Homo sapiens: one gene and its partners. The protein of the gene in region 5 purifies or fractionates together with the protein of the main gene of each other region. This does not show direct contact. Each region holds a gene or a part of one and is shown on either strand. Other genes may lie near its edges. The genes, in order: GTPBP1, DNAJC10, SAFB, SRRT, GLDC, GNAI2 and ADD1.

Region 1 (4,131 bases), on a different chromosome or scaffold from region 5:
AGCACCCTCATCTAAAAAGGCTGCACAGCCCCTTCATGCCCTCTCTGCTTCTCCTGAAGTAGCCTTTGAGCCTCAGGCCTTATATGAGCCAAATAATATACTACAATGTGTATGTCTGAGCCATAACCCATGGTAAAGAGGGCACAAGCAGCCTGCCTCCTGCTGCTTAACAGGAAGGGCAGGACCCAAGTGACTGAGAATATGGCACTGTGGATAGAAAGCGCAGTGCTTTCCATCTACATGCCAAAGTCTTCTACCTGCAGTTGGCATCTGGAAGCCCACAAGACATATACCTCATATACCTCCATGCCCTCCACCCACAGGCCAGTGGCTTCCAGGATAACAAAAGAATTCTGTTCTATCTTGTCTTAGCTATATTGAATATTTGGGAATGAAAACTGCCTGCAAGACTCATCTTCATCAACAAAGCACCATCACCATTACCACTACGAGGAGTATTAGCACCGTCATTTTGCAAATGTCTGCCAATAACATTGAAGTGTCAACCATTTACTTGGGTAAGCCATTTGGCAATCAGACCCCATTCTCTAACCACTCCTGTGTGACCTTGGACAAAGAATTTAACCACTCTGAGTTTCAGTTTTTCAATCTATAAAACGGAGCTAATACTACCTGCATCCTAAGGCCACTGTAAAGAGCAAATATAATAACATGTAAAGCATCTAGTCCACAGCTCAATAAATGTGAAACTACAAGGTTTTCTTCACCCAATCATTCCCAGAAAAACCTTGTTGGATGAAACTAGCCACCACTATTCACTAAGTGTTTCTCCCTTTGGAAGCTCTCGGAGCCTTAGGTCTCCACATTTTCTATCGTAAGGACATGAACCTTTCGCTTCTAATCTGTTCCTCCGGAATCAATCTATTCAACCCAACCCTTCTCTCCCTCCACACCATCACTTTTTCTTTTTGATATCATCGATATTAATATACATATGATTTTTTTTAATTGTAAGGAGGACTTCCCCAGCTATGTGATGAAATAACACTTCTAGGAATATTAAATGAGCTGGTCAAGAAATGAAGGTACTACCGTCTTTGCAACTCTGCCCTGCAATTTCCTATCATGTTTCTTCAGCACCTTGACCATGTGTTGACATCCAGTTTGTTTGCTCTTGAGTCAGGTCCATAATCTTGTAACTTCCTGAGTTGACTCATCAGAGCTTGTAATTGTAACCTGGATGTTTCCTGGGTCTTTTACATCGTCCTGGCCATCCCTCTCTCTAAGTTTGGCCATCCTCATTATGGCCTTACAGGCACAAGACAGGACCAACTTTGACAGGCTAGCTGGCTTCCAAGTGCTCACCTGAGACTACAATGGCAAAGAGCAGTTGAAAATAACTTGCTTAGGTTGCAGGGAAAGTTCCTCCCCAGTTTAGGACCAAGTTTCATGCAAATTTGCCGCCATAAACTATAAAAAGTCACAAACATTTTCAAAGCTGGATAAAATGTCTATCGTAACTATCCTACAAATGTAAGTGGTGGTATTGGTGTTCTATCTTTCACCCACTGCTATTTAATCTGCACAGGAAATTAGGAACTATCTCGTTCACTTCAAACATTTACTGAGTCTCTAGTATGCATCAGGCACTATTAGGTGTCTTCTTAAATATTTCTAATTTTTACAACCCATCTGTACTTTCTTAAGATGAGGTGGTTGGAGAACTGAAAGGTTAAGAAACTTTCCCAACGTCACAGAGCCTTTCGATGGTAGGGCAGGAAAGGGAACCCAGCCCTGTCTGACTCCCAAGTTGGCATTCTTTCCCTAAGGAACGTTAAGCACCTTCAAAACACCAGTCACATCTTGTATTTACTTTTCTATTCTTCACAATGTCAAGCCGTTGGCGAGGCCTTAATTCCTGCCTACCTTCTCGACAGCTCAAAAAACACGGTTTTAAACGTCCTTCACTGCTCCACTCATACAAGATGAGCTTCCACTCACAGGATAGCGAGACTAAGGAGCCTGACCATCTTTCCATTTTGTTTCGGGTGGCCTCGAAAAGTAGACATTCTCGGACATGCTCCTCCCCAGCTGAGCGACTACTTTCTGTTTCCTTTCCCGAGTCTGGGAAGAGACGCGGCGGCCACCCTGCCCTGGCCTCCGACTACCTGTCTTCATGAGCGTCTCGGCCCCCTGCCCGGGCCCCCTCGCCCCTCTGCTGTCCCGCGCGGTCCAGGGAGAGGAGACTCTCGGTCTCCGAATCCCCTCAAGTGGGGACCCGAAGAACGGGGAGGGGCACTGAGCGGGGACAGGGAACGCGCGGAGCGCAGCTGGCATCGGGCGCCCCCGTTCCACGTGGCAGAGCCGAGGGGTTACGATCTCGGCGGGAGACGGGAGGGCGGGAGGCTGGGTTGGCGACGCGGGGGAGCCAAGGTGGGTGCGGGGACCATGGGGACGGCCCCTCGCGCCGCGAACCCCCGCACGTCCCGGAGACTAGCAGGTGGGCGGGCTCGGCCCCTTCTTCCCGTTCCGCGCTCCCCGCGGACAGGGCGGCCGCTGGCCCCGCCGTCGCCCGGGAGACTGCTCGGCCAGCCGCCCGCTCCCCTCAGCGCCCGCCGCCGCCGCCCGGGCCTACCTTGCTGGTGAGGTCCAGCTCTGGCTCGCCGTTGAGCGCCTCGCCGTCCTCGCTGCAGTCCGAGTCAAAGCCGCCGTGGAGTCGGGCGGCGGCCGCCGCGGCCCTGGCCGCCCCCGGGGAGCTGGGCTCGGGGGCGAACATAGAGGCCGGGACCGGCGAGTCCATCGCGGAGCGACTGCGCTCCGTCGCCATCTTTAATAACTTAGGCTAATTCGTAGCCGGCTTCCCTCCCTCCCAGGCTCATTTGACTAATCTATGCACAGAGCCCCGCCCCGCTCCTTATCGGAATAATTTATGCAAAACTCCAGCCGCGTACTGGGTGACACGTACCTCTAGCTAAGAAACAGTCGACTAGGCCTCTCAGCCACCAATCCCTGCAGAGCTTTCAAGTACCTAATGAATAATTAATGAGGCCCAAATCCCAACAACAAATGTCTGAGACGTCACGCGCCCTGCTCCCAGCTTGGGAGGGGGCAGTACCGAGTCCCCGCTACCCGCCTGAAGCCTTCCCGCCAACGGAAGCAGAGAAGTGTCTGACTGACACAGCAGCCATCCAATGAGGAGAGAAATACAAACAACGTTACTCGTCAACGCCCCTTCACTCTCCTTGTTTCCAGAGGCGGTACTAAGCCTGCAAATCTTACTGCAAAACAGTAGGCGCTGTAAGCCTTCCGATGACGGACAAGGGCAGGACCCAATCGAGTCATAGAACAGGTCCCGCGCCTGGACCTGCTCATGGAGATAGTAAACTGCAAAATGAGCCTCCCACTCGATTCAGTGACTGAGGCAGTTGCTGGAACGCCGATGTCCAACGTGCTGGCATGCTCCAGGCAACTTTAATAGTAGGATCGATGCTGTAAGTTCCAAGAGTTGTAATACTATAGCAGCCAGAGTGAGGCAATAATTAAATGCTGACCTTAGGGAGAATTCTCCATTCACTGCCTTTGCGGAGGCAATCACACGAACTAAAAACAGAGGCAAGCAGCTAAAATTAAAAGCCAAAAAACACCTCACCACTTTTGTGGTGAACTGCTAAACCGAAATCTAGGGTCTCATAAGGTAGTTTCCTATGGATTATTTTTCCAGTGTCATCAGTTGTGAAAAGCCCCAACCCAAAATGCCATCAACACACGTTTTAGTGTCTTGAATTCCTGTTTCAAAAGCCGGAAAAGCCTAGGCCGTCATTGTTTGGCGAAATTAGGGATTAACCAACGTCTATGAATGTCGGCCTTGGCCACTCGAACCAGGCATCAAGCAAACAAGAGCATGTTTGAGAAGATAAGGAATCCAAGACTTAGGGTTTGGACCTAAACCCTAAATCTTTAGTGAGCAAGTGGCAGGATTGAAAATGGCTTTCAGTTTTGGGGATCTACCTGAGAAGAAAGAGACAGTCTCTTCTTGTCCCTGTTTTCCACTACTATCAAGTCTTATTTGCACAAACACAGCTGGGAATCTTGGACAGGAAGTCATCTGATTCCAATGGTCTTGATACTGTTCTTATGTGCTTTTTAATTTCTTCCTTGCCAAATTGCTCA
Region 2 (3,500 bases), on a different chromosome or scaffold from region 5:
ATCCTTCTCTGGCATCACTGACACCCTTCTACCCCTGTTCCAGCTTCATTCTAATTTTACTGTAGCAATTATCTTGTATTACTTATATTTATTTCCATTTTCTCTTTCCACTAGATTAAAATCTCCTTAAAGACATGGAATTTCTTTCTTTTCATCTTCCTTTTCTTTCATGTGGAGTTACGTGGCCCTACTACTTAGCATAATGGCTTTTCATTTGGTACTTAAAATTTGTTGAATAAATGGTCTTTTTCATGTTTAATAATTTTCTACTAGATACAATATAGAGTTGCATTACAAAGTTTATAACTAAAGTTTTTAGTACATGAGAAATGGAGTAAAGCAGAATTATTACAGAAGGAAGCATAAGAAGATTAGAATGGAAAGAATAAACCTCTTATCTGATGCACCAGCTAATAACAAAAATAATCTTTTATAGCTAGTAAGACCTTTAAAATCCCTCTGCTAAAAAATTCCCATGGCCTGGGATGCTAAGCTTTAGTGTGAACTGGTGGAACTGGAGCTGACTTTCTCATTCCAGTTGAGTGTTTTATACCAACACTAGTGGCAAGAGTTCCTCGAGTTATGGAGGCAAGAAAGCTATCAATCTGGATTAGGTCACTAATAAGACTGTTACGACAGAAAGAAACACCAAAAGCTCAGACTGCATTGAGGGTATGTATTCAGTTTAATTTTATATAAGCATTTACTGAGTTAGGCCCTGAGGATATAAAAATAAATAAAACATGGACTTTGCCCTCAGGAAGAGACAGCCATTTACAAAGGAAGATGGACAATGCTATACCGAAAAATAAAACCAACCAACCGAACAAAACCCAAAATTGCTACAACTAATTATTTCCATTGGTATCCAGCTCCTTTTATTTCTGGTCAAATTAAATATCTTTCAAGTAATAATAAATAAAGAATTAATATGCACTGTATCAGTACACTTGATAACATATCCAGGTGACACTGATTAACTGAGAAGGGCAGAGAATAGAGCAGTGCCATCGGAGCTGAGTTTTGCAGTAAGAGGAGAAAAAATACAGATGACCAAGGTAAGGACAGAGCATTTTAGAGAGAGGGAGCGGCATGTAAATAAGGACACATGTTCAGAGAACCTGGAGTACTCTGTTACACTGGAATCTAAGGTGTGAGGTGGACAATAGAGATAGAGCTCATATCAGACACCTGAAGTCAATGTATGCATATTAAGAAACTTAGTAAGTCAGAGAGGGAAATATTTTAGAAGATCACCAGGGCAGCACTGACAAAGGTAGACAGTATAATACCATAGATGACTCTTGAACAACAAAGGCTTGAACTGTGTTGAACTGCTTGAACTGGGAATTTTTTTTTTTAAGCAATTGCAGATGGAAAACAGAATAGTCATAGGATGTGAAACCCTGCATACAGAGGGCCCACTGTGAGGCCTGAGCTGCACAGATTTTGGTATGGAATGGGGGTTCCTGGAACCAATCCCCTGAGTATATCAAGGGAAGACTGCACTTAAAAGGCAAATATGGTTAAGTCTAGACAAGAGATGATAAAGGGTTGAAGAAACAGGTTAGCAGTAGAGATGAATAAGAAATGACATTTGAAAGACATTTAGGGGATAAAACTGACACAATCTAGTAACTGCCTGGAGGGCAACAGAGTACTGGGGTGGGGAGGAGAAAGTAGACAAGAGGGAGAAGAAAGAGACGTTTCTGGCTTTTATGGCTAGTAGATGATGATGTCTACCAAGATAGAGAAGATGTTAGCTAAAAGCTTTAACAAAGAAAGAGGAAATCTACTACAACCATTACAGTCATAGAAATATAATAGCTATTTTTAAATTCAGAGGAAACATTTAAGAAAAAAACCTAAAAATTACATACTTACAATGTTTTATCTAATTACTAAAACATGAATGTGGCTACAACTTATTTAAGACAGGTATGACTTACCCTAGCCAAGAGCTCAAATTCTGGAGCAAAATTCTGGCAAGGTCCACACCAAGGAGCATAGAAATCAATCACCCAATGATTTTTCCCTTGTAGAACTTTTTCACTGAAAGTCTGAGGTGTTAGATCTGTGGATACTTGAGGTAAAAATCTGTGGCAAATGATCAAAATCATTTTTCATTATATAAAACCAAAGCAAACATATGAAATGCAATAATATTGTAATACTTTCTAAGTTAAAAATGATGTCAAGGAAGGGCAATGTAATAAAGTACAGTACTATCTTGGTTAATATAATACTTTACTAAGTAATTTAAAATGCTAGAACCTTAACCCACAGTAAATTTAACTATTGATATAAAAGGGGGGTAAATGGCTTTGAATCTATTTTATACAATGATATATATTTTAATTACTCACCCTAGACCCCAGATTCTCAGGGAATAAGCATCCCTATTCCAACCATTGTAACTGCTGAGAGAAGAAAAAATGTTAGTTGTAAATAGGATTCTCTATTATTGGATGTATTCAGAAAACAATCTTATTGTAGCAATTTAAAAAATAAGTTATATTGATTGATTTCATCTGGTATCTCTCTTCTCAAATATACCTAGCTACAAATTCTGGTTATAAGGCCTCACAAATGTATTTTTCTCTAGTCTTGGTATCTTTGTGCCCCAGACAGCCCAGAATGTCTAGCTGTCTACTGGACATCTCCTGTAGACCTATGGGAATTGCGAAACTCAGAATGTCCAAGGGTTTTAGTTTCTGAATCTTTATTCAAGTTATTACTGTCTGTCAAATTCCTACCCATTTTTAAAGACACATGTCAAAAACTACCTACAAAATGCAGCCTTTCATAATTTCCTCATAGTTGTGACCCTTTCCTCTCTTGAAATCCATGGTTCATTTTTACTTGTTTAATAACATTCATCATATGTACCTTACATTTGAGTTTTCTACCTGAAATACCACGTGGTGTTGTGGAAACAGCATGGGTGCTGAGACAGACTTGGGTTCAAACCTCAACTTCAACTTAGCAGCTGTGTGACTTGGGGAAGTTATCTAAGCCTTAGATAACTCCTAGACCTTGGATTCTAAGGTCTGAGAATCACAGTTTACTTCTCTGTAATAGTAGGAAGGGTAGTAATTCCTAGTTCACAGAGCATATGTGAGGATTATTGGAAATAAGGTGAGTAAAGTATCTAATATAGTACCTGAAACCAAATAAGGTGTTTAAGGACTTAATAAATGTTAGCTCTTCCTTTCCTTATCTTTTTGTCTAGACTATAAGCTTTATGCACAGTGAGACTGTTCAATACTCCCTTTTCATCTTCTGAAATGTTCATTAACAAACTATCTTTACGTAGTGGGCTCCCAATAAATATTTGTTGGGTTAACTTTTATTTTGTTCAGGTAACTTAACTGTTAAGTGTATAATTAAATAATTATAATAAATGTCTTCAAATATGAGAGAATACTTACTGATAATGATAAGCTTTATTTGATTTTGGGGGAAAAAATCTTATCTCAGGGTATCTTTGAACGTTTTCC
Region 3 (3,500 bases), on a different chromosome or scaffold from region 5:
AACCTAGACTTTTCTAGTGCTTTACTTTTCTCTTTCCTCATTTTGCCTCTTGCTCAAAGAAAGGGCAGGAAGAAGGCACGCTGAAGGGAAAAGAACCCATTCTATGGGAAATTCTGTGGCTACCACTGTAGCTTCAGACTTACCTGTCCTTCTCGTTCTCCCATCATTGACCTTGAACCTTCTCTCCTGAAAAGGCAATTTAAATCAAACCGTAAGGGGAAGAAGAGGCTTGTTCACAAAGAGAGGACCATCAGGCCCCCAATGAAAAGCATAATTTCCCTAACTGAAGGCAGGAGACCTGCGGGTCTGACTCAGCATACATCTGATGAACGGAGTGGGTTCAGAGAGCCCAGGAGTCCTTGTTCTCAGTCAGAATGAGCCAGGAAAAAGAAAACCCGCACGCCCAGCAGGGGCCCAACTGACCTGTCCACCGAGTGGTCGGGGTAGCGGCCGCGGTCCCTGTGGTCAAAGTCGTGGAAGCGGTCCTGGCGGTTAAAGTCAGAATGGTAGCGCTCATCCAGGGCGGCCCGCTTGGCTTCCGGCCAATAGGCATCATCTCGCCTGTGAGGGGACATGAGACAGAGATAGAGGGATCCCCCACCCCAAATGTATCTATCACCTTTGTGGGAGCTGGCCCCTAGCACTTCACAGAACCAGGATGACTTTCACCAAGAGTGTTCTCTCCTATAGGAGGCAAGGTCTGATTTGACCCCAGTGACTGCACAGTTGTTTTGTTTTGTCCCATGCACCCACCTCCCCTGATGAAAAGCGGCCTCGGTTTTCCAAAGAGGGAGCCATTAGTTAAGCAGTCAGTCCTATGGGCTGCCTGCAGATGGCTTCTGGAGCCCTACACAGCCACCTCCGCTCAGGAAGACCACGTGAGCCTCCACCCCGAGGGGCTCTGTCAAGTGCACCTGCCATCTCTCTCGCCCCAAAGCTGACCTCCTGCCCTGCCAGCAGCCCTGGCCATGTACTGCTGCAATACACAGATGACCATAATGAACTGTCATCAGAAGGATTTCGTACCAAAGCATAATAGATCCTAGAACAGTTTACAAGGCCCTTTATAGAAGTTGCATTGTATATATGACCTGGGCTCCTCTTCAACCCATGCAATAGAAAGAAACAACAAACAGCAATTTTTGCCAGGTTGCAGTGCACGTGTAAAGCCTGACACAATCACTGCTGGAATTACACACCTGACTCCTCACAGCAGCCATGCTCAGCATTTTGTGTTCATACCTCCTCTTCAGTATGTTTGAGAAATTAAAATTAATCTTACTGCCGGGCGTAGTGGCTCATGCCTGTAATCCCAGCACTTTGGGAGGCCAAGGTGGGTGGATCACCTGAGGTCAGGAGTTTGACAGCCTGGCCAACATGGTGAAACCCGGTATCTACTAAAAATGCAAAAAATTAGCCGGGTGTGGTAGCACATGCCTATAATCCTAGCTACTTGGGAGAGTGAAGCAGGAGAATTGCTTGAACCCAGGAGGCGGAAGCTGCAGTGAGCTGAGATCACGCCATTGCACTCCAGCCTGGGCAACGAAAGCAAAACTCCGTCTCAAAAAAAAATTTTTTTTTAATTCTTTATTTCTAGAATAAGCAAAAACAAATTACAATGGATTTAAAAAGCCAGGACAAGGCCGGGGGTGGTGGCTTACGCCTGTAATCCCAGCACTTTGGGAGTCTGAGGTGGGTGGATCACCTGAGGTCAGGAGTTTGAGATCAGCCTGACCAACATGGCAAAACCCCATCTCTACTAAAAAAAACAAAAATTAGCCGGGTGTGGTGGTGGGTGCCTGTAATCTCGAATACTAGGGAGGCTGAGGCAGGAGAATCGCTTGAACCCAGGAGGTGGAGGTTGCAGTGAGCAGCGATCGCGCCATTGCACTCCAGCCTGGGCAACAGAGCGAGACTCTATCTCAAAAAAAAAAAAAAAGGAAAGGGCCTTAAAGGAGGTGCAGTAGGGCACGTGTGGCGCTCTCTACGTGCCTGAGCTTCCCTCCTCAGGAGGTCTGTGCCACCCTTGAACCTGGTTAGTTAACCAGCACTACTTTATCCAGCCTCCTGTCTCTAATTTTTTTTTTTTGAGACCGAGTCTCACTCTATTGCCCAGGCTGGAGTGCAGTGGCACGATCTTGGCTCACTGCAACCTCTGCCTCCTGGGTACACGCGATTTTCCTGCCTCAACCTCCCCAGTAGCTGGGATTACAGGCGCCTGTCACCACGACCAATTTTTTGTATTTTAGTAGAGACGGGGTTCTGCCATGTTGGCCAGGCTGGTCTTCAACTCCTGAGCTAAGGCAATCCGCCCACCCTGGCCTCCCAAAATGTTAGGATTACAGGCGTGAACTAGCGCACCCGGCCTATGCTTCCTTTGAATGAAAGATCTCAAGCTGGCCGGTCGCGGTGGCTCACAGCTGTAATCCCAGCATTTTGGGAGGCCGAGGCAGGTGGATCACGAGGTCAGGAGATAGAGACCATCCTGGCTAACACAGTGAAACCCCGTCTCTACTGAAAATACAAAAAAATTAGCCGGGAGAGGTGGCAAACGCCTGTAGTCCCAGCTACTCGGGAGGCTGAGGCAGGAGAATGGTGTGAACCCGGGAGGCAGAGCTTGCAGTGAGCCAAGATCGGGTCACTGCACTCCAGCCTCCGCGACAAAGCAAGACTCCGTCTCAAAAAAAAAAAAAAAAATCTCAAGCTAACTGGACTGTGAGGTCCCTAACACGATTCTGAACGCCACGTGCTAAGGGCAGCATGGATCTGCTTACCGGTCCAGGTCGTAGGGCCGCCGCACCGCGGGCCGCCGCTCCTGCTCATAGCGCAGTTCCTGCTGGCGCCTCAGCTCCTCGCGCTCACGGTGGATGCGCTCCTGCTCGCGCCTGCGCTCGTGCTCCACGTGCATGCGTTCGCGCTCCAGCCGTTCCCGCTCCATGCGCTCCCGCTCCAGCCGCTGGCGCTGGAAGGCCAGCCTCTCTCGGGCAATCTCCAGCCGCTCACGCTCCTCGCGCTCCCACTGCGCCTGCATGCGTTGTTCGCGTTCACTGCGTTCACGCACCCTGCTGCACAACAGTAGAGCTGCAGAAGGGGACCTAGACACCCCCAGCCAGGTCCCAGGGCTGACTTTAAGTAAGACGCTGGGTCGCACAGACTCCAGGGCTGTGCGTCCACTACGTGGTCTGCAGAACCGTACACTCCAGCGGGAAGAAGGCTTCTCGGGCCCACAGGAGCAGCCCAGGAAGATCTCAGGAGTGAGGCCCAGGCTGTGTGTGTGTGATCAGAACTGGGCCTCCTTTCTCCAACATTTCCTGGAGCTTGACAAGTGATTTCAGGAAACAGCCAGTCAAAAATAAGCAACAGGCCGGGCGCGGTGGCTCACATCTGTAATGCCAGCACTTTGGGAGGCTGAGGTGGGTGGATCATGAGGTCAAGAGATCGAGACCAGCCTGGCCAACATGGTGAAACTCTTGTCTCTACTAAAAATACAAAAATTAGCT
Region 4 (3,500 bases), on a different chromosome or scaffold from region 5:
GGAGGATGGACAGACGGGGGTACACACAGCATGGTCTCCCAGACAAGGGTTTCAAGGGACAAAGTAACGATGGGTGATGGGAAGTTGAGAAAAGGAAATGACAAAGATTTAGGCACAGGTGAGGGGAGAAAGGGGAGGCCCAGGTGGAACTGAGGCAAAGGGGAGGAGAGGGAAACCGCTCCATCTCACCAGTCTCTCCTCATGCGCTTCTGTGGCGGGCTGAGTTCGTGGCGAGGTGGCGAGAAGCGCTCTCGCCGATTCCGGTCATAGTCCCGATATTCACCCCGACTACGGCGCTCACGGCCACGGTCCCACTCTCTGGCAGTAAGAACAAGTAACAAAGATTAAAGGCCAGGCACAGTGGCTCATGCCTGTAATCCAAGCACTTTTGAGGCCGAGGCAGAGAACACTTGAGGCCAGGAGTTCGAGACCAACCTGGGCAATAGTGAGACCCCCCCCCGCCCCCCGCCATCCCTACAAAAAATTTTTTATTTTTTAAAAAGGTAACAATAATTAAAGATACAGCTGGATATGCCACAGCCACATTCCTAAACAGGCCCTTCTTACACCCTGAGATACCAGACTAAAAAGCCTACAATTATAAAACTTCGCTCCTAACAGAAAAAGATTTTTCTCTAGTCAGGGCAAGCCACTGCACTCCAGCCCTGGCAACAGAGACCCTGTCTCAAAACAAAACAAAACAAAGATTCTTGTCTAACTCCATGAGTTCAGCCAATACCCAAGAACTGATGGTTCTCCAACTCTTCTCCCAGCCTGGCCTTCCGCCTGTGCTCCAGACCCACATGAATCACCCCTGCTACAGGCCCACTTACGGGCAGGTCGCGGCTGCAGCAAGCTTCGACTGCACCAGTGCACTCAGCCCGGGTGACAGAGGGAGACCCTGTCTCTAAAAATAAAACAGAAAACTTTTTAAAAATCATCCCCTACTAGAAGTCCATCACCCCCTCAAATTCAGCCTGTCAGAATCAAGCCTATTCAGCCGGGTGCGGTGGCTCACGCCTGTAATCCCAGCACTCTGGGAGGCCGAGGCGGGCGGATCACGAGGTCAGGAGATCGAGACCATCCTGGCTAACATGGTGAAACCCAGTCTCTACTAAAAATACAAAAAAAAATTAGCCAGGCGTGGTGGCAGCCACCTGTAGTCCCAGCTACTCGGGAGGCTGAGGCAGGAGAATGGCGTGGACCCGGGAGGCGGAGCTTGCAGTGAGCCGAGATCGCGCCACTGCAAGCCAGCCTGGGCGACAGAGCAAGACTTCATCCCCCCCACCAAAAAAAGAAAAAAGAATCAAGCCTATTCATCCCACCACTATGGGCCCAAATGTCTTTTCCTCCTCCCGCTCCCCACTCTGCTGTATCAACGGAACAGCATCTCTCGCCAGCTGTCATTCACTACCCTCACCGCTAATTACTGCTCCTGCTAATCCTCTGCCTCAAAGCCTATCAAAGCTGTCCCACTCTCTGCCATCCCCACACACCCTGTCCTAGTCTTTGTCCTTGGCCAGTGTGGCTCCTGCAGCCCTGGCTGCCCGCCTGCTTCTGGTCTCTCGCTTCTGTCTCCCCACTGGCAGGCAGACCTTCCTCAAACACAAGTCTCATCACATCACACCGTTACTTCAATGTCAGTAAGCAACACTATTGTTTTAACTTGGGCTCCTGGCTGTCACTCCAGCCTCTCGACCAGTCACCAGCCTCTCCACCAGTCACCAACCTCCCAACCAATCACCAGCCTCCCCCATCCTCATCTTCTTCTTCTTCTTTTTTTTTTTTTTTTGGAGACAGTCTCACTCTGTCGCTCAGGCTGGAGTGCAGCAGCACAATCACTCTCGGCTCACTACAGCCTCCGCCTCCTGGGCTCAAGCAATTCTCCTGCCTCAGCCCCTTAATACTCTTAAAAATGACTGAGGACACCAAAGAGTTTCTGCTTATGTGGGTTACATCTATCGATACTTACTATATTCAAAATTAAAACGAAATGTTCCAAAACCTTCATTTTTAAATTACACAGTAAGATGAAACACATTACATGTTTTTATGAAAAATCGTTTTCCAGAAAAATTTTGGTGAGAAAAAGTGGCATTGTTTTTACATTGTCACCAATCTCTCCAAGTTCTGGCTTTGTAGAGGATAGCTTCTACACTGAATCTGTTGAGATATTTTGTTCTGCTTGAAAAATGAGGCAGGCCGGGCATGGTGGCTCACATCTGTAATGAATGCTAGCACTTTGGGAGGCCGAAGCAGTGGATTGCTTGAGCCCAGGAGTTCAAGACCAGGCTGGGGCAACATGGTGAAACCACCTTTCTACTAAAAATACAAAACTTAGCTGGCTGGCTGGAAGTGGTAGCTCATGCCTGTAATCCTAGCACTTTGGGAGGCCAAGGCAGGCAGATCACTTGAGGTCAGAAGTTTGAGACCAGCCTAGCCAACATGGCAAAACCCTGTCTCTGCTAAATACACAAAAATTAGCCGGGCGTGGTGGCAGGCACCTGTAATCCCAACTACTCGGGAGGCTGAGGTGGGAGAATCGTTTTGAACCCGGAAGATGGAGGTTACAGTGAGCCCAGATCACGCCACTATACTCCAGCCTGGGCAGAGTGAGACTCCATCTGAAAGAAAGAATGAAAGAAAGAAAGAAAAGAAAGAAAAAGAAAGAAAGGAAGGAAAAGAAAAGAAAAGAAAGGAAAAGAAAAGAAAAGGAAGGAAGGAAGAAAGTAGGTTAGCTGGGTGTGATGGCATACACCTGTAGTCCCAGCTAATCAGGAGGCTGAGGTGAGAGGATCACCTAAGCCTGGGGAAGTCAAGGCTGCAGTGATCTGTGGCCATGATCGTGCCACTGCACTCCAACCTGGGCAACAGAGTAAGACCCGTCTCAAAAAAAAAACAGAAAATCAGGCCTCATACTGATAAGGAGTTGGAAAGGCCTTTTCAGATTAACTGTAGATATTCATTTTGGATACTACCCAAAATTCAACAAGAGGTAGGTTCTTTTTTTTCTTTTCTTTATGCTACCTTGTCCAAGAAGGAAGTAGTTTCTCACAGGCTAGTTAGAACCTTCAATCTGAAATAGTATCAGTGAATATTTCTTTCTCTGCTGCATTAAAATCCACTGTTCTATCTTTCCCTTTCAATGGACCTGGATTATGTCTCACCCAATATCAAAATGTACTCATCAGCATCACTGCCTATCTCACCAAGAAAGTCTTTACTTAATGGGAAGCTGTCAAGCTCACATTAGTAGAAGTTTTCCAAAATTTTAATTTCCTTTTTTTTTTTTTGACAGGGTATCTCTCTGTTGCCCAGGTTGGAATGCAGTGGTGCCATCAAGACTCACTCCCACCTCCACCTCCCAGGCTCAAGCCATCCTCCCGCCTCAGCCTCCGGAGTTGCCGGGACTACAGGCATGTGCCACCACCCCCAGCTAATTTTTGTATTTTTTTGTACAGACAGGTTTCACCACGTTGCCCAGGTTGGTCTCAAATTCC
Region 5 (3,500 bases):
TTCAACACTGCCTTCTTGGCCTTTAAAGCATTCTCTTTGGCTTCGGCTTTAGGAGGGGCAGGAGCTTCCTTCTTCGCTTTCGGCGCCATCTTGTGAAAAAGCTCTGTTTTTGTCATTAATTCTCAATAGGCAGATTGGACTGTCACCTTGTTGCCTAATTGTTAAATGTTTACTGACTACTATTGAAAGACACTCTGAGGATATACTTTTTTTTTTTTTCTGAGACAGAGTCTCGCTCTGTTGCCCAGGCTAGAGTGCAGTGGCACGGTCTTGGCTCACCACAACCTCTGCCTCCTGGGTTCAAGCGATTCTCCTGCCTGAGCCTCCCGAGTAGCTGAGACTACAGGCACGCACCACCATGCCCAGCTAGTTTTTATATTTTTAGTAGAGACGGGGTTTCACTATGTTGGTCAGGCTGGTCTCAAACTCCTGACCTCGTGATCTGCCTGCCTTGGCCTCCCAAAGTGCTGGGATTATAGGCGGGAGCCACCGTGCCCAGTGAGGATATACATTTGAATAAACATAGTCACTATCTCCAAGGGGCTTACATCTTACCTTCTTAATATAAATAGATCAGACAGACAGTTAAAAAGTTCTAGGTGCCATGAAAGCTGTGGGTAAAATGTCATGAGCGTTCAGAAATGATGTGAAATGGGATGGAAAGACAGAGTTAAGAGTTGGAATATATCTTCTCAATGTAAAGAAGCAAAGATGAAGCTGGGAGCAGTGACTCACGCCCATAATCCCAGCACTTTGGGAGGGCGAGGCGGGTGGATCATCTGAGGTCCGGAGTTCAAGACCAGCCTGACCAACATGGTGAATCCCCGTCTCTACTAAAAATACAGAAATTACCTGGGCGTGGTGGCGCATGCCTGTAATCCCAGCTACTTGGGACGCTGAGGCCGAGGCAGAAGAATCGCTTGAACCCGGAAGGTGGAGGTTGCAGTGAGCTAAGTCGCGCCATTGCACTCCAGCCTGGGCGACAGTGAGACTCTGTCTCAAAAAAAAAAACAACAAACAAACAAACAAAAACTCAAGCAAAGGCAGTACCTTCACTGAGAAAAAGGAAATGGAGAAATGCAATGTGCAAGACATAATTCGGCAAGCACTTGAATGTTGTTGCGGGATCATCCCTGATGGAATCTTAAATAATTATGCTATCAATTATTTGGGGGATATTCAGATAAATGTCGAAGTATATCATGGTAAAAGTGGAGGGGTGAAAATATTTGTTTTAAAAGTGATGAGATTACAGGCTGACACCTGTAATCTCAGCACTTTGGGAGGTTAAGGTGGGTGGATTGCTTGAGCCGAGTAGTTCAAGACCAGCCTGGGCAACATCCTGTCTCTTTGAAAAAAAAAAAGTAAAAAAAAATTTTTAATGTGTTGAGTCCTAAAATAAATTATGATCAGTTTTTCCTTTCTTATTAAAATTAGAATCCCAAACTAGAAATCTCAGTCTTGGCTGGGCACAGTGGCTCATGCCTGTAATCCTAGCACTTTGGGAGGCTGAGGCGGATGGATCACTTGAGGCCAGGAGTTCAGCATCAGCCTGGGCAACGTGGCAAAACCCTGTCTCTACTAAAAATACAAAAATTAGCTGGCTGTGGTGGTGCATGCCTGTTGTCCCAGCTGCTCAGGAGTCTGAGGCAGGAGAATAGCTTGAACCTGGGAGGTGGAGGTTGCAGGGAAGAGAAGGTTGCAGTGAGCTGTGATTGCGCCACTGCACACCAGCCTGGGCGACAGAATGACTTCATCTCAAAAAACAAGACAAAACAAAATTAAAAAACCCTCAATCTTGATAAAGTATCTTTTTTTTTTTTTTGAGAGAAGTCTCGCTCTTATCCCCCAGGTTTGAGTGCAATGGCTCGATCTCAGCTCACTGCAACCTCTGCCTCCGGGGTTCAAATGATTCTCCTGCCTCTGCCTCCCAGGTAGCTGGTATTAAGTCACCTGCCACCACGCCTGTCTAATTTTTGTATATTTTAGTAGAGACGGGGTTTCACCATGTTGGCCAGGCTGGTTTCGAACTCCTGACCTCAAGTGATCCGCCTGCCTCGGCCTTCCAAAGTGCTGGGATTTTCCAAAGTGCTGGCATTACAGGCGTGAGCCATTGTGCCCGGACTTTTTTAAAAAAAAAAACAAACAAAACCAGTTCTGCTCTGTCACCCAGGCTGGAGAGCAATGGCACGATCTCGGCTCACTGCAACCTCCGCCTCCTGGGTTCAAGCAATTCTTCTGCCTCAGCCTCCCGAGTAGCTGGGATTACAGGCACCCACCACCACAGCCAGCTAATTTTTGTATTTTTAGTTGAGATGGGCTTTCACCGTATTGGTCAGGCTGGTCTTGAACTCCTGACCTCAAGTGATCTGCCCGCCTCAGCCTCCCAAAGTGCTGGGATTACAGTCATGAGCCACTGTGCCTGGACTATTTTGGGTTTTTTAATTTTATTTTTGAGATGGGGTCTCACTCTGTTGCCCAGGCTGGAGTGCAGTGGTGTGATTACAGCTTACTGCAGCCTCGACCTCCTGGGTTCAAGTGATCTCGCACTTCAGCCTCCTGAGCAGCTGGGACTACAGGCGCATGCCACCATGCCCGGCTAATTTTTGTATTTTTTCTAGAGACAATCTTACTGTGTTGCCCATGCTGGTCTCGAATTCCTGGGCTCAGGAAGAAATCCTTCCGACTCTGCCTCCCAAAATACTAGGATCATAGGCGTGAGCCACCTTGCCCGACCAACTTTATTTTTTAGAGCAGTTTTAGGTTCATGGCAAAACTGAGTGAAAGCTACAAAGATTTCCCATTAAACCCACTGCCTCCACACAAGCGTAGAGTCTCCCATTATCAGCATTGCCTACCAGAGCATTTGCTACAATTGAACCTACATTAATGCATCATTATCACCCAAAGTGTTTTTTTTTTTTTTGAGACGGAGTCTCACTATGTCACCCAGGCTGGAGTACAGTGGCACGATCTCAGATCACTGCAACCTCCGCCTCCTGGGTTCAAGCGATTCTCCTGCCTCAGCTTCCTGAGTAGGCGAGACTACAGGCATGAACTATCACGCCTGGCTAATTTTTGTATCTTTAGTAGAGACGGGGGTTTCACCATGTTAGCCAGGCTGGTCTTGAACTCCTGACCTCAGATGATCTACCCACCTTGGCCTCCCATAATGCTGGGATTATAGGTGAGCCACTGCGCCTGGCCTCACCCAAAGTGAAGATTGTTTACGTTAGGATTCAGTCTTGGTGTTGCACATTCTAGGGGTTTAGACAACTGTAGTATAACATCTGTTCATTATTATCATTTTTATTTTAAAACATTTTATTTTTATTTTATTTTATTTATTTTATTTGAGACAGTATCTTGCTATGTCACCCAGGCTCGACTACAGTGGAATGATCACAGCTCTGTGCAACCTCGACCTCTCCGGCTCAGGCAGTCCTGTCACCTCAGCCTTCCAAGTAGCTTAGACCACAAGGAGAACCACAGCACCTGGC
Region 6 (3,500 bases), on a different chromosome or scaffold from region 5:
CCAGCAAATGTTTGGTTATTCCAGAAAGATTCTTCCTCCCCAGCCACCAAGAGCAGCCACAGCCCCAAGAAGTAACATCAGGGTGAGGGTGGGGTTGGGGTTTAGTAAGAACGAGAGCTTCAAGCTAGAAGGGCTGGGTGGGGCTGGGCAGACGGGGTTCCACCCTGCACCTGTAGCTGAGGGAAGGGCTGCCTGAGAGCATCAGGTACCAGGGACACCATCAAAGGGCCCAATCCTTTGCCTTCCCCAAAGCACCTTGCAGAGCACTCTTAGGCAGGGTGTATCAGCAGTGGCCTGGCCAGAACCTGCTGACCCCTTCCCCTCCTCGCTCAACTCCTAGGCTGGGATTCCTGGCCTGAGATGCTGGGAAGATGAGACTACTCCCTGGCCTGTACCTTGCCCCCATCTGCCCGGTCCTGCCTCCCCCCACAGCACAACGGGATGTAGGGGAGGCAGCACTCAGGCTCTGGGGTGACAGTCTCCTCCTCTGCTGTGGGTGGGGTGGGGGGAGTCCCTGGTTCCTCAGTGGCTAAGAGCTTGGGTGGACAAAGCTTCCTCCATCCTGTTCCCGCCAAGTGAATGGGTGGCTTTTAGAGACAGACTGAGAGAGTCACAGCCAGGGACCAAGAACTAAGATCAACGGCAGAGTATACAGGACCTGTGTGTCTGCCTGTGGCCCAAGTAGCCCCAAGTGCACCTACTGCCCCACCCCCTGCAGTGCTGGAGGCCTAGGGACCTTGCTGGGACCTGACCACACCCCACCCTCAGCACTACCTGCTGCCACTTGCCAGGCAAACTGATGTTCAAGGGCCTGGGACATCAGTGATGGCACTCAGTGACCCTACCTCTCAGGCCACCCAGGGCCAACCGCTGACAAGCTGCCCAGGGCCAAAGGGGTCCCGGACCATCCCCAGGCCCCATCCAGCAGCCTAGGCTCTGACACATAGTGGGTGGTGTGATGCTGCCTCAGGGCTTCTGACATGGAAGCCTGTGTCCCGCAACTGGTTTGACTTCCACCTCCTGCCACAGCAGCGCGGCTCATTCTCTCTGTCCTCACACCTGCTCTGCCCTCTGTCTGGGGTTCCTCTCCCCAACCCGCCTGGGATGCCCCCAGCTGAGCTCCAGCTGCCCTGATTCACCTAGTCTCTCAGCTCAGAGGTATCCCTTAAAGGACCTAGTCTCACTCCTACCCTAGAGGTATGACCTCATGTTGGCTGCACTGACACTGGCGTGAGAGGCAGGGGCTGAGCCTAGCAGAACTGGGCAGGATGCAGGCAGAGGGGGTCAGCTATAGCTTGGACCCCTGTTCACTCCTTAGTGTGGGAGCTCTATCCCTGCCTGCTCCTGCAGACAAAGCCCCGACAAGCCTGGGGGAGGGGTGGGAAGAAGAGACTCAGAGGCCCAAGCCGCCCCGCCCCCCATTCAAGTGCTAATGAGCTCCAGCAGTGAAGGAGAGGGCTGGGGTAGAGTGTAGGGGCTGGAGGCCAGCCTGGGTGGGTACTGGCCCACCTGGCACCCAGGGCCCTACCACATCTCCAAACCTAGACCCCCAGAGGTTGGGCCTAAGGTCCCCAGGGCAGTCTGTCACTCCTGCTGGCACCAACTATCTGCACGCCTTGGGCTCCCCACTTGCTGTGAACAGCTGCCTGAGGGCAGGGGAGGGGGTTCCCTAGGGCTCCAAACCCAGGCCAGGCAGCCTCTAGGATGGGAGACTCCTTCCCACCAAACTCTCAGCAGTGGGTCCCTCATCCATTTTCTTTTTTTTTCTTTTTTTTTTTTTTTTTTGAGACAGAGTCTTGCTCTGTCCCCCAGGCTGGAGTGCAGTGGCACCATCTCGGTCCACTGTAACCTTCACTTCCCAGGTTCAAGCGATTCTCGTGCCTCAGCCTCCCGAATAGCTGGGATTACAGGCACATACCACCATACCTGGCTAATTTTTTTGTATTTTTAGTAGAGACGGGGTTTCACCATGTTGGCCAGGCTGGTCTTGAACTCCTGACCTCAGGTGATCTGCCTGCCTCAACCTCCCAAAGTGCTGGGATTATAGGTGTGAGCCACCGCGCCTGGCCTCCCTCACCCATTTTTCATACCTCCAAGCTTTGGTAGACTGTCCCCATAACCTGTGGCTGCAGGGAGGCACTCTGCCCCCAGGTTATGAGTGGAGAGCAGGACTCCTGCCAGGGCTTCACCTGATGCTGAGTCTCTCAGCCAGTGCCATAGGTGGAACTGGGATTCGAACTCAGGTCTGGATGACCCCATGGGCTGGTCCAGGGAGGGTGGCCCTTTCCCCACCAGGCCAGGAAACACCCACCCAAGCTCTTGGGAATACAGGCCAAGTCTTCCTGCTGCAGTGTTCTTGTCGAGTTGGTCCCTCTGACCCCCAGTGCCTGGCCCTGGCAAATGGTATTCATCCTTCACAGCTGCCCAGCAGACCCCCTCCTCCAGGAAGCCCCCCTTCACAGGCACCATTAGAGTCTAACTCACTACCCAGCCAGCCAGAATCCCAAGCTAACCCTTCCTATCTGTCTCTAGCTAGACCAGGCTCCAGTGGCTGCCCCAGGATTATACTTACTCCTCTCCCAGGAGCTCTGCCCTGTTCATGGACATGTTCAATCACTTCATTCTGTCCATATACCCTCATTAGGCATCTATAGTATGCCAGCCCTTTGCAAGAGACACAGACAGGACAGAGGCCACAAAACCCCCTTTCTTTTCTTTTGGTAAACTTCATTGAGCCCTTGCTATGTGCAGTCTCTGCACTGGCCAGTACCAGGACTCTCACAGCATTGCTCTGGTCTGAGCCCCAGGGCTGCGGAGCAGCCCCTGCTGGACCAGCCAGCTCAAGCTCGACTGTGGCTACTGCAGTGTCAGAGACAGCAGCCCTCTAGCAGTGCACCAACAGCCTGAGTTGGAAGGAAGAATACAAAGCCACTCTGCTCAGCAGGAGTTCCGCACAGGGTGGGATAAGAACTCTCTCAGGTGCCAGCATAGCCTGTGGCGGGGCTGGGAAGAAACAGCCTGAAGAACTTTTCTCAGTGTCCCCTCAATGCTGGTCACCAATCCTGTGGTGGGCCTGTGGGCCCTTGCCACCTGCCCACAGTATGCAAACTGCCGCTCAGTTTACTCCACCATCTACCCAAAATCAGGTTCAGAGGATACTTCCTTCATTCAACAAACAGATGAGAAGCACCCAGTAGATGCCAGGCTCCATGCTGGGCACAGAAATGAAGAGGACTTAGCCCTGCCCTGCAGTCTCCAGGCATCTGAGGGGGGAAGCAACAGCGCTGGGAGCCAGATGTTTCACCAGCCTTGGTCGAGGGAGGATGTCCAGGAAGGATCCTGGGAGGTGATCCCAGAGTAAAGTTTTAAAGAACAATCAAGTAGGGAACAACACACACAAAGTTCCAGGGGCAAGAGAGAACTGCTCTGTTTACATTCTGAAGCCTTTATGGAGCCAATGGTGGACACTGTCTCCTTTTTTTGTGAAGCTGTCCACACAG
Region 7 (3,500 bases), on a different chromosome or scaffold from region 5:
GGTCTCCGGTAGGGGAAGGCACTGGATCGCCTCCCAAGTGGCAGATTGGTGAGCAGGAATTTGAAGCCCTCATGCGGATGCTCGATAATCTGGTAAGAATGGTGCCACCACTTGATGATAAACCTTTTGTTCTAAAAGCATCAGTGTTGGTGTTCTTACAGCAAGTGCGATTGCTGTCTTTTATGCAGTATCTGAATACCTTCACCTTCAAAGTCATGAAGAAGCACTAGGGTTGTTTAACTTCTGAGGTAAATTACAATAAAATGTAGAGGTGAAGGATTCCTGGTATTGTTTTATTTTTTAAAGATAACCTTGTGTTTGGACTCAGTGGGGACAAGAGCACAGAGAATGCGTAGGCAGCTGGATGACCAGCTGTGTCAGCTCAGTCCCCACCATCCCACAAGCAAGCGAGAGAGGTGGCACTTTTGAAATCGGTCAGTCAGGTATTTAGGCTTTTGTCTTAACAGCAAATCCTGGCTGTCTGGGGCCTGATGACTGTGTTCCATGGGTATCCACTCCCTGTCCACAGCGTGGGAGCCCCTCAGCTGCTTATTGCAGGGACACAGAGCCCGGCATGGTCCAGAAGGCGGGCTTATGGGGCCTGCAGCACACAGGGAAAGTGAGCCCACACTGTGATAGGAGGGCAGACACACAGGATGTGTTCTGTGTTACAGGGTTGCCGTGAAGAATTTCATTCTTTTGCAAGGACTGGAGAGAAAATTTTATGTGGAAGGTAGCCCTTGGAAATGACCTCAAAGAATAGGTAGGATCTTAGCCTGCGTTTGAAAGCCTGGAAAAAAACAGGATGACAGGATGAAGAGGCCACAGCACAGCTGCAGACAATGGGAGTGGGGAGATGGGAACATGCAACGTACGGTGCACCTTTCAGGTTCATCTTGACTTTACCAGGATCATTAAATACTCAGTTCTTAGAGCTGTATTAGAACACTGCCCTTGGGGTCTCAGTCCCGCAGCCACATCATCAGACACAGGGCTCTGGAACAGATCCCTTCCATGCTGCACATCAGACCTCTTAGATGGGGGTCACGATGGTCCGTCCTAACGCCACATGACCTCAAGTGGTGTAGATGTGAGGACATGTCAGTGTGGGGAAAGAAGGCCTCAGAGGGGCCAGTATCCTTGTATGCTGCCAGCCAGTACTGGACAAGTGGGCACGTTCCAGCCTAAGACAGGCGTGGCCCTTGGACCAGATCACAGATGAGATGGGTGGCTTCAGGAAGCAGGGTGGCTTCAGGAGGCAGGAAGTTTAACTTTCCTGAAGGTTTGGAATAAAAAGTATTCATAGGTCTGATTCAGGCTATGTTAAATGTTCTTACTGAAATTCTTTGCACTTGGGATGAATATTGTCCGCTAGAAAGGAGGAACTGAGGGTTTTCTGCCTGGGCGCGATAGTCAGTCAGTGGAGTAGACTCAATCAGTGACACAGGGACGAACAGAGAAGGCAGAGTCTAGCGTAACTTTTTGAGTTCATATAATCAGTGAGGTTGATTGCATTAATTGACTGTCTACTGTTGAGTCATGAACAGGACACAGTTCTTGCCCTCAGGAGTTTATGACCTAATAAGAGAGATGGACAAACGATTCCCAAATGAGCCCTGCCCCTGTGATCTGTGCAGTCATAGGCATGATGAGAGCTTGCAGGCAGAGGTGGGTGCCGATTGGTCAAGGAGGTAGGAAGAGGAGCAAAAGCTCATGAAGAAGGCTGAAGAAGCAGTTAGAGTTGGGTGGCCAGCCAGGGTAGTGAAGCTGCAGGGACTCATAGATGGAGAAAGCTTGAGAGTGGGGCAGCCATGGCCCAGGTGTGCGTCAGGAGCCAGGTCATCCAGCATGGCTGTGCAAGGTAAGGAGGGCTGAGGTTGGCCCAGTCACACAGCCCCTGCCTCCTGGTAAATACGGCGACATTTTGCTGCTCTTCTACTTACAGTCAGTGTGAGGGAGGAGAGAGGGGGGTCAGAATGCACAGCAGCCACCAAAGACTGTGCTGAAAGCACATCCTAGAAGGCGGAGAGGGGGAAGTCAAAATCAGGTAGAAACTCTGATTTGGTAGGGAAGGAAGATAAGGATGAATGATTAATAAGTAAAACATTCATTACAAAAAGCATGATGAATGTTTACTCAGTGTCCTTAATGTGTACAGATTGTTTTAATATTAGAAGGCCATATAGTTTATAAGAAATAAACTAGACAGCAATCACTAATCATAGTCCATGTTTTAATTTAGCATCGGGGTTGGCATATATGTTGTTTGCTAATAACTGAGTAGAGAATAGTTGCCAATTTCCACACTATAATATATGTTGCAGCCGAGCACAGTGGCTCACTCCTGTGATCCCAGCACTTCAGGAGGCTGAGGTGGGAGACCAGGAGCTTAAGACCAGCCTGGGCAACATAGCGAGATTCCTCTCCACAAAAAATAAAAAAATTTCAAAAAGAGAGATAATATTTCATTTGAACTTCTACAGTTAGAAAAAAAATGCTAAATTGTCCCCCCCCCAAAAAAAATCAAGATATAATTTCAGTTTCTCAAAGAAGGAACAAATCCATATATATTTTCTCTTTCTTTTTTTTTTTGGAGAGACAGGATGTCATCATGTTGCCTAGGCTGGTGTTGAACTCCTGGGCTGAAGCAGTCCTCCCACCTCAGCCTCCCAAAGTGCTAGGATTATGGGTGTAAACTACCACGCCTGACCCAAATCCATGTTTTTAACTACAAGCCAGATAGTAGTTCTGAGGTCTGAGTATTACTTCTGGTTTTGGTTTAACAGCATTTAAAGGGGAAGAATAAAGAAAAATCCATATGGTTTCAGGATAAAATGATGTTGATGAGTCCTGGGTGGTTTATTCTGAAGTTGTGGAGATTACTGAGTTCTGGCTCTTTAAGCAAAAGGAAACTTGAATTAATAAGAACTGTGTTTTTCTGCAGATAGTCTTTATGGCAGAGTCATTCTCTTTTATTATTCCTCAACAAAGCATGCTCAGAAATGGGAAAACTGCCAGTACACACATTTACCTTATCTTTCTGAGGACAATTATGAAAATAAAACCCAAAACAACTCCATTCATGATTGTTATTACCTTTTTAAAAAAATGTAGGCCGGTCACGATGGCTGATGCCTGTCATCCCAGCACTTTGGGAGGCCAAGGCAGGTGGATCACCTGAAGTCAGGAGTTCAAGACCAGCCTGGCCAACATGGTGAAACCCCTTCTCTACAAAAATTAGCCAGGTGTGGTGGAGGGTGCCTGTAATCCCAGCTACTCGGGAGGCTGAGGTAGAAGAAGCACTTGAACCCGGGAGGCAGAGGTTGCAGTGAGCCAAGGTCGAGCCACAGCACTTCAGCCTGGGTGACAGAGCAAGACTCCATCTCAAAAAAATAAAAGGAGGCCGGGCGTGGTGGCTCATATCTATAATCCCAGCACTTTGGGAGGCTGAGGCAGGTGGGTCATGAGGTCAGGAGATTGAGACCGTCCTGGCTAATACA

Evidence for each region.
Region 1: the proteins of GLDC (region 5) and GTPBP1 purify together in Homo sapiens (affinity purification with mass spectrometry, with the first as the bait; one large-scale study listed by BioGRID). This does not show direct contact.
Region 2: the proteins of GLDC (region 5) and DNAJC10 purify together in Homo sapiens (affinity purification with mass spectrometry, with the first as the bait; one large-scale study listed by BioGRID). This does not show direct contact.
Region 3: the proteins of GLDC (region 5) and SAFB purify together in Homo sapiens (affinity purification with mass spectrometry, with the first as the bait; one large-scale study listed by BioGRID). This does not show direct contact.
Region 4: the proteins of GLDC (region 5) and SRRT purify together in Homo sapiens (affinity purification with mass spectrometry, with the first as the bait; one large-scale study listed by BioGRID). This does not show direct contact.
Region 6: the proteins of GLDC (region 5) and GNAI2 purify together in Homo sapiens (affinity purification with mass spectrometry, with the first as the bait; one large-scale study listed by BioGRID). This does not show direct contact.
Region 7: the proteins of GLDC (region 5) and ADD1 purify together in Homo sapiens (affinity purification with mass spectrometry, with the first as the bait; one large-scale study listed by BioGRID). This does not show direct contact.

What each region holds. Positions count from the first base shown.
Region 1 is NC_000022.11:38,704,613-38,708,743, reverse strand, and holds the start of GTPBP1 (GTP-binding protein 1), read right to left. Parts: upstream 2,801-4,131; 5' UTR 2,789-2,800; coding exon 2,597-2,788; intron 1-2,596. UniProt on the Homo sapiens protein: Promotes degradation of target mRNA species. Plays a role in the regulation of circadian mRNA stability. Binds GTP and has GTPase activity.
Region 2 is NC_000002.12:182,757,757-182,761,256, reverse strand, and holds part of DNAJC10 (dnaJ homolog subfamily C member 10 isoform 1 precursor), read right to left. Parts: coding exon 3,432-3,500; intron 2,421-3,431; coding exon 2,367-2,420; intron 2,098-2,366; coding exon 1,950-2,097; intron 1-1,949. UniProt on the Homo sapiens protein: Endoplasmic reticulum disulfide reductase involved both in the correct folding of proteins and degradation of misfolded proteins.
Region 3 is NC_000019.10:5,661,083-5,664,582, reverse strand, and holds part of SAFB (scaffold attachment factor B1), read right to left. Parts: intron 3,066-3,500; coding exon 2,775-3,065; intron 562-2,774; coding exon 424-561; intron 187-423; coding exon 144-186; intron 1-143. UniProt on the Homo sapiens protein: Binds to scaffold/matrix attachment region (S/MAR) DNA and forms a molecular assembly point to allow the formation of a 'transcriptosomal' complex (consisting of SR proteins and RNA polymerase II) coupling transcription and RNA processing.
Region 4 is NC_000007.14:100,878,103-100,881,602, reverse strand, and holds part of SRRT (serrate RNA effector molecule homolog), read right to left. Parts: intron 908-3,500; exon of another isoform or gene 834-907; intron 319-833; coding exon 190-318; intron 1-189. UniProt on the Homo sapiens protein: Acts as a mediator between the cap-binding complex (CBC) and the primary microRNAs (miRNAs) processing machinery during cell proliferation.
Region 5 is NC_000009.12:6,635,730-6,639,229, reverse strand, and holds part of GLDC (glycine dehydrogenase (decarboxylating), mitochondrial precursor), read left to right. Parts: exon of another isoform or gene 1-105; intron 106-3,500. UniProt on the Homo sapiens protein: The glycine cleavage system catalyzes the degradation of glycine.
Region 6 is NC_000003.12:50,239,204-50,242,703, reverse strand, and holds part of GNAI2 (guanine nucleotide-binding protein G(i) subunit alpha-2), read right to left. Parts: intron 1-3,500. UniProt on the Homo sapiens protein: Guanine nucleotide-binding proteins (G proteins) are involved as modulators or transducers in various transmembrane signaling systems.
Region 7 is NC_000004.12:2,899,344-2,902,843, forward strand, and holds part of ADD1 (alpha-adducin), read left to right. Parts: coding exon 1-92; intron 93-3,500. UniProt on the Homo sapiens protein: Membrane-cytoskeleton-associated protein that promotes the assembly of the spectrin-actin network. Binds to calmodulin.